Linked DNA regions of Homo sapiens. The protein of the gene in region 2 purifies or fractionates together with the protein of the main gene of each other region. This does not show direct contact. Each region holds a gene or a part of one and is shown on either strand. Other genes may lie near its edges.

Evidence for each region. Proteins that work in one complex are often made in the same cells at the same time.
Region 1: the proteins of IFI16 (region 2) and DDX18 purify together in Homo sapiens (affinity purification with mass spectrometry; 3 studies listed by BioGRID and IntAct, with this or other methods). This does not show direct contact.

What each region holds. Positions count from the first base shown.
Region 1 is NC_000002.12:117,817,535-117,821,190, forward strand, and holds part of DDX18 (ATP-dependent RNA helicase DDX18), read left to right. Parts: coding exon 1-194; intron 195-2,114; coding exon 2,115-2,258; intron 2,259-3,626; coding exon 3,627-3,656. UniProt on the Homo sapiens protein: ATP-dependent RNA helicase that plays a role in the regulation of R-loop homeostasis in both endogenous R-loop-prone regions and at sites of DNA damage.
Region 2 is NC_000001.11:159,016,347-159,020,002, forward strand, and holds part of IFI16 (gamma-interferon-inducible protein 16), read left to right. Parts: intron 1-186; coding exon 187-354; intron 355-1,882; coding exon 1,883-2,305; intron 2,306-3,656.

The DNA.
Region 1 (3,656 bases), on a different chromosome or scaffold from region 2:
GCCCATGAATGTGGGCTTATCAGAAACTCAAAATGGAGGCATGTCTCAAGAAGCAGTGGGAAATATAAAAGTTACAAAGTCTCCCCAGAAATCCACTGTATTAACCAATGGAGAAGCAGCAATGCAGTCTTCCAATTCAGAATCAAAAAAGAAAAAGAAGAAAAAGAGAAAAATGGTGAATGATGCTGAGCCTGGTAGGTATTTATTATCTTTGAACTTCAGCCATTTAGTTTTTCACAGACGGTTATTGTTCCTCTTTCTATTACTATTGTGTGCACATGACATGAGAATTCCCTGTACTCACCAGTATGTTAGAGATTAGCCTGGTAGCTAATGGAAACATTTTATTGGCAGAAGCGGGGAGTCCATTTCAACTTTTCTCAAAATATTGAGGAATATATTTTTAATTTCACTAACCTTGAAGAAAACCTCTCTCAGAAAAGACTCTCCTTAGAATTCTAGAAATTTTCTCTTCTTTTTAAGTTACCTTTTTTCCTGCTTGATTCTTCCCATTTTCCTTCCATAAATTCCTCCCTTTGAAAGGAATATTAGTTACAAAGTATATAAAGTAGGAAACTTCTGAATAAATGGAACATTAATTTCCAAGTGCTAAGAATGGCAGGAGGAAAAGGAAGGAATGTTTTTTGAAGATGATGGAATTTCAGTAAGCTCGGATGAAAGAATGGACATTATAATTGAGATTTGTATAAGCAGAGATATCAAGGTAGGATAAGATAGGGGTCAGCAAACTATCCCTCCTTCTACCTGTTTTTGTAAATAAAGTTTTACTGGGTCATAGCAATGCCTATTTGGTTGTGTTTATGGCAACAGAGATCATATGACCTGCAAAGCCTAAACTATTTACTATCTGGCCCTTTGCGGAAAGTTTGCCAGCCCCTGAGTTGGAACATCCTATTCATGTATTTTACCTGAAATAAGGGTTTTATTTAGAAAGGGACTTTGAACTTTTCCAAACATGCATTACTGTCTTCATGATGCCTACACACAGAAGTCATTGTAATCCTGTTCTAAAATTATTGCCTTCACAATTCTTGTTTTGAGTATGCCCCAGGAAGTGGTATTATTTCTGCTCCCAAGCATTGAATCACAATGCTGGGCGTTTTAACCTTATGGGTTTTTTGTTTGTTTGTTTGTTTGTTTGTTTTATTATGAGATGGGGTCTCACTGTGTTGTCCAAGCTGGTCTTGAACTCCTGGGCTCAAGTGATCCTCCCACCTCGGCTTCCCAAAGTGCTGGGATTACAGGCAGAAGCCACCACACCCAACCACCTTATGGGTACATTTTAGGAACTATTCCAGGGAAAACAAAATAAGCCATGGAGACCAGCTGAAGATATCTGTGGCTTTTGAACATGTAGGTCCTACAAAGTTGACTCTTTCCTGGAAGGGTGGCCGTCAGGTACAGGGAGGAGACCAGTACTGAGCTACAGAGAGTCCTGGGTTGTGGTCTAAGTTCTTTTCAAACATCACTAATTGCCATATAGTTTTATATAAACACAGCATGTGGTTAATCCATTTGACCCAGAGTCGAACATTGAAAAGAGAAGTGAGAGGTAGGACTGAAAAGGTAGTTGGGGCCACATGAAAGTTGTGAATGTAGAAATGAGGGTGGGAAGAAGCCCTGCCTTTCCTCCCACCCTCATCCCTGATAGCCAAGGCACAGTCCAGTGTATGTCAGCCAGGCAAGTGGGTTGTTGCCCTTCCTTTACAGTCTATCTCTAGTAACATGAAGAGCCTTTGATAGTGATTGGCGTGGGAAGAAAAATGACTACTTATAATGAGTTTTTAAGGATTATGTTAATCAGGTATGCTTCCTTTCCCCTCAGTGGAGTATGTGAAACTTATAATTGGTATGTTTATACTGTTTAGTTGAACAAAAGCCTAAAAGGTTTTGTCACCAAGTCTGTCTGTACCCTGGGTTTTTAAATACAACCACTCATTTTTCACCAAACAGAATTCTTAACAAATTAATACAGCATATACTTAGCTTTTGAAAATATACGTCTTTATATCAGAGATCTTCTGTTTGTTGATCTCATTTGGAATTCTATTTTAAGGAAAAATTTTTTCGGATTTTGTCTTTTAAAACCAAAGATACGAAAAAAGCAAAAACTGAAAACAAAGGGAAATCTGAAGAAGAAAGTGCCGAGACTACTAAAGAAACAGAAAATAATGTGGAGAAGCCAGATAATGATGAAGATGAGAGTGAGGTGCCCAGTCTGCCCCTGGGACTGACAGGTAACGTCCAGGAAGTTTTCTAGAGGTAACTTCTTTAAAATGTGCCTCTCTTAGAGGATTATAGGTTTGAAGGTTCAGTTGTGACTTTCAGTTTACCTGAAAAAAGTAACTATCAACAAGAAACTTTTTTTATATCTTTCTGCTGCTTTTTCTCTTTATCTTCTATTTTGTGGTGTTTTAGTTCTTTTTGTTCCCTGTTTTTTTCCTTTTGTTCATTCCTGACACCAAATATTTTATATGCACACTAGCAGCTTCTAGGATTCCTTGGTTTGTCCTTTTCTGAGTCTCATTCTATGTTGTAATAGGAAAATGATTGGCCCTGTACGAGGTTAACCTCCTTTGGCCTTTGTTCCTTTATAAAGTTGAGTTTAGGCTAGAATTCACTGCTCCTAACCAGATATGTCTAGGAGTTACTTGAGTTGTTTATTTGGTTTGGGTTGGTTGGTTTGTTAAAATGTTGAGGCCCAACCCTAGACCTGCTTAATCCAAATTGCAAACGTTTTGGTAGTAGCTCTCGAGCAGGGAAATTCGCCCCCCGAGTAAGAAGAGTAACTCTTCCTGGTTTGCCCAGAACTTTAACAGTTTTAGCACTGAAAGTTCTGAATCCCAAGAATCTCCTCTGTCCCTAGCCTACTGAGAAGATTGGTCATCCTAAGCCTAGGAGACATTTTTGGTTCTCAGAGCTAGGAGCAGTCTGCTGGGATCTGGTGAGTAGAGGTCAGAAACACTGCATAATATCTTATAAGGCACAGGATAGTGTTTCACAGCAAAGAATTATTCAGCCCAGATGTCAGCAATGCCAAGGTCAAGAGTGATTGGTTTACACCCTGGGCATGTGGAGTATGGGGAACCCCCAGGTGATTTTGATGCCTTCTGCTGAACCACCACTGTATTACTTGATACGTAGGCTCAGCCTAACATTCTGTGGCTGTATCTGACTCTTCTGTGTCTTGTTGGAGTGAGATTAACAGGTTTTTTTTTTATTATTGACTTCACACTCAGTTTTTATTAATGCTCAATGTTTTCACTTTTATATCAGATTTCTTAAACATTTCATTTATCTCTGGACTCTCATTATTTTCCTTGTTTTGGTATTTTTATTTTATATAAATTCCTTGGTTATACCTCCTCTCTACCCCTTGTTTTGTTATAGTATGGTCTCTGGACTATAACTCACACAGCCGTTAACAGTGGAGAAACTTGAAAGATATAGGGTCTTTTTCTTGATATTATCACATATGAATAATTAAGGTTTAGCCTTTTCTTACTGCGGGAAGCTTTTCTAAGCAAAATAGATTTAGGCAACTGTAGCAATACTTTTTTAAAAAAAAAGATAAATTTGCTAATGATAAATTGTCTTCTGTTTAGGAGCTTTTGAGGATACTTCGTTTGCTTCTC
Region 2 (3,656 bases):
TCCTCTTTCTTCGTTTAATGAAACCATCTATGCCCATCTCTTAAACTGGCGAGAGATGGGCAGCAACCTCTCAAGTTTCCAAGAAACATCTTCTTAGGAATAATAAAACTACTATCCAATAATGAAAATGTGCTCTACTTCATTTGGCACTGAAAACGAATAACAGGAAAATCAAACCACTTTCAGAAAAGAAAAAAATCAACCAAAGAAAAGGCTGGACCCAAAGGGAGTAAGGTGTCCGAGGAACAGACTCAGCCTCCCTCTCCTGCAGGAGCCGGCATGTCCACAGCCATGGGCCGTTCCCCATCTCCCAAGACCTCATTGTCAGCTCCACCCAACAGTTCTTCAACTGAGGTACACTCTTCCTGGTCCCATTTTGCTTTGTTTTTTTCAACCCAAAGTAAAGGACTGATTTCACCGGTTACTTAAAAATTGCATCGATAATTTGCTAGTTAATCCAATGTACATATTGAGAAACCACTACATTTTGATCTTTTGCTTTCACAGGGATACTTGATGAACTTGACATTATCTCTGACTGCAGGAAGTTTTCTGTTCTGTGTTGTTTGGGGAAGGGAGAGAGAGCTATGCAGTACAGAACTGTCAGCTGTGGGCTCACTGTCTACTGCTCCCATGTCCTTCATACCTCTTCCCTTGGTTCACTATAGTATTCCATGTCAGACCTCTCCAGCACCTGCTAGTTTGTGAATGAGGTTATCCATACCCTCAGCTCTTTTTCTTGTAGATTAAACAACCTCCCCTGCATTAAAACTGTTCTATCGCAGTTTAAGGAGACTGGGATGTTAAAGAGTAAAGATGTTAAAGAAAACCCTTTCTGAGCCCCAGGTTTCTGTTAGCATGCTACCTGCTAGAGCCCTGACACTGAGAAAGGCTATGGTGGTGGGAATGACACTCTGTAGAGTTTCTGCAGCCTGAACCTACTGAGATGATGGCATTCTGAGGGGTTTATCCTACTTGTGTTCTCACCTGCTGTAAGCAAACTGAATCTTGGGTAGGAACACTATGAAATGTGCTCTTTAAATTGCCCTGTCTACACTGGTGATAACTGAACACTCTTTGTGTCTATAGTTTGTGGTGGGCACCATTTTTCATTTTTTTTTTATTTTTATTTTTTTTTAGTATTTATTGATCATTTTAAATGTCATTTAACTTTGTCTATTTTTAGGCTCTGGCACTTTAAGCTGGTAAGAGAAATAGTATAAGAAATTATTTCATTCTAAAATTTATTTATTTATTTATTGTTGTTGTTGTTGTTGTTGAGACAGAGTCTCGCTCTGTCACCCAGGCTGAAGTGCCGTGGCATAATCTCGGCTCACTGCAGCCTCCACCTCCCGGGTTCAAGTGATTCTCCTGCCTCAGCCTCCCAGGTAGCTGGGATTACAAGCGCCTGCCACTACACTCAGCTGATTTTTGTACTTTTAGTAGTGCCAGGGTTTCACCATGTTGGCCAGGCTGGTCTCAAACTCCTGATCTCAGGTGATCCACCCGCCTCGGCGTTTCAAAGTGCTGAGATTACAGGTGTGAGCCACCGCGCCTGGCCCTAAAATTTATTAAGTTACTTCATGACACTGGCTTTCAGTATCCACTGGTCTTATGTTGCTCTTATGCTTTATTTCTTAAGGTTGATTCTGTTTACAGAAAGGTCATCTTTTCACTATATGGTCTCCTCTGTTACTTCATCTTGCTATTGTACCAGTTTAAGATATCTTCTGCCCTGGCTCGCAATCCCTCTCTATCCTGACTCCAGCTCTAAACATCTGTGCAAGTTTTGGGGCCCTGTGTTATACTGAGGTCACTGAATAGCAGTTCTGTATTTCTCAATTAGACATTTTTCTTTGTTCTCCTGTGCTATCATACACAGAACCCGAAAACAGTGGCCAAATGTCAGGTAACTCCCAGAAGAAATGTTCTCCAAAAACGCCCAGTGATAGTGAAGGTACTGAGTACAACAAAGCCATTTGAATATGAGACCCCAGAAATGGAGAAAAAAATAATGTTTCATGCTACAGTGGCTACACAGACACAGTTCTTCCATGTGAAGGTTTTAAACACCAGCTTGAAGGAGAAATTCAATGGAAAGAAAATCATCATCATATCAGATTATTTGGAATATGATAGTCTCCTAGAGGTCAATGAAGAATCTACTGTATCTGAAGCTGGTCCTAACCAAACGTTTGAGGTTCCAAATAAAATCATCAACAGAGCAAAGGAAACTCTGAAGATTGATATTCTTCACAAACAAGCTTCAGGAAATATTGTATATGGGGTATTTATGCTACATAAGGTAAGTCCTCAAAATTGTTTCGTTTCATTTTTCCACCAACACCTGAAATTAAAAGTCTTGATGTGTGAGATGAAGCTTTGCCTATAAACTGGATATTAGAATCCAGGACTCTGAAGACTAATGACAGGTGGATAAAGACTTCTCTGAAGATAAGACTGGGATTAGGGGACCTGTTAATATTTCTTTCCCATGTTCTCCTTCCCAGAGCATTAAACTGTAGTCTTTACAATAATGTTCACTGAGAAACCTTAAGACTTTATCAGTTGTTATTATCTATGCTAAGTGATCAAGGACATTGTGAGGTCTACATCCATACACACATGATACTAAGTTTATCCCTTTGATTATTATCTCTACTGTCATAAAAATCACATTATTTTTATTTTGAATGAAGTATTGTCCTCTGAGGCTTGAGTTCTGGTTGTGACAGTCAGAATAAGAAATAAATTGACTACTCATGGCTGGAAAACAAATGCAGAAAGTAGGTAGGACAATGTTCTGACCAAATGAAACTAATTCATCATAAAGAAATGGAACAATTGGGAAATACGAATTTGGATGATACTTGGAAAATCAGGTAATCTAAATTTGTCATTTATATATAAATAACAAAAAAAAAAAATAGAGTACAGAGTGCTTTTCCTGATATGTTCCTGTCCAAATTCATAACCAGTTAGCATGAGACATTCCACCCCGCAAAAAAGCATCTATCCTCTGCTATTGATTCAAGCAATTTATCTGATCAATACTTCATTACCCATTATATTTGTTTCCTAGAACAACTCATTAACCTGCGTTACTTTCTGTACACAGTCTTTTTTTTTTTTTTGAGACGGAGTCTCTGTCGCCCAGGTTGGAGCGCAGTGGCGCGATCTCGGCTCACTGCAACCTTCGCCTCCTGGGTTCAGGCGATTCTCCTGCCTCAGCTTCCCAAGTAGCTGGGACTACAGGCGTGTGCCATCACGCCTGGCTAAATTTTTTGTATTTTTAGTAGAGACGGGGTTTCACTATGTTAGCCAGGATGGTCTTGGTCTCCTGACCTCGTGATCTGCCCACCTCGGCCTCCCAAAGTGCTGGGATTACAGGCATGAGCCATTGCGCATGGCCTATATACACACTCTTAAAGAGATGATTCTTACAAATCCAGTTCTAGGATGATGAGTAATGAGCAAAAAGCTGGAATGTTTGAGCTCAAGGACTTGGTTTCAGGAGGGGGTACAAATATTGGAAGAGACTCAGTAAATGCAGAAAGTAGAAAAAGTAATTAGAGAGTTACCAGAAGCTTGCTTTTTCTTACAGATTCCTCATAAGTCACTGAATAAATAGTTGTAGCAGATATCCATTCTTTTTG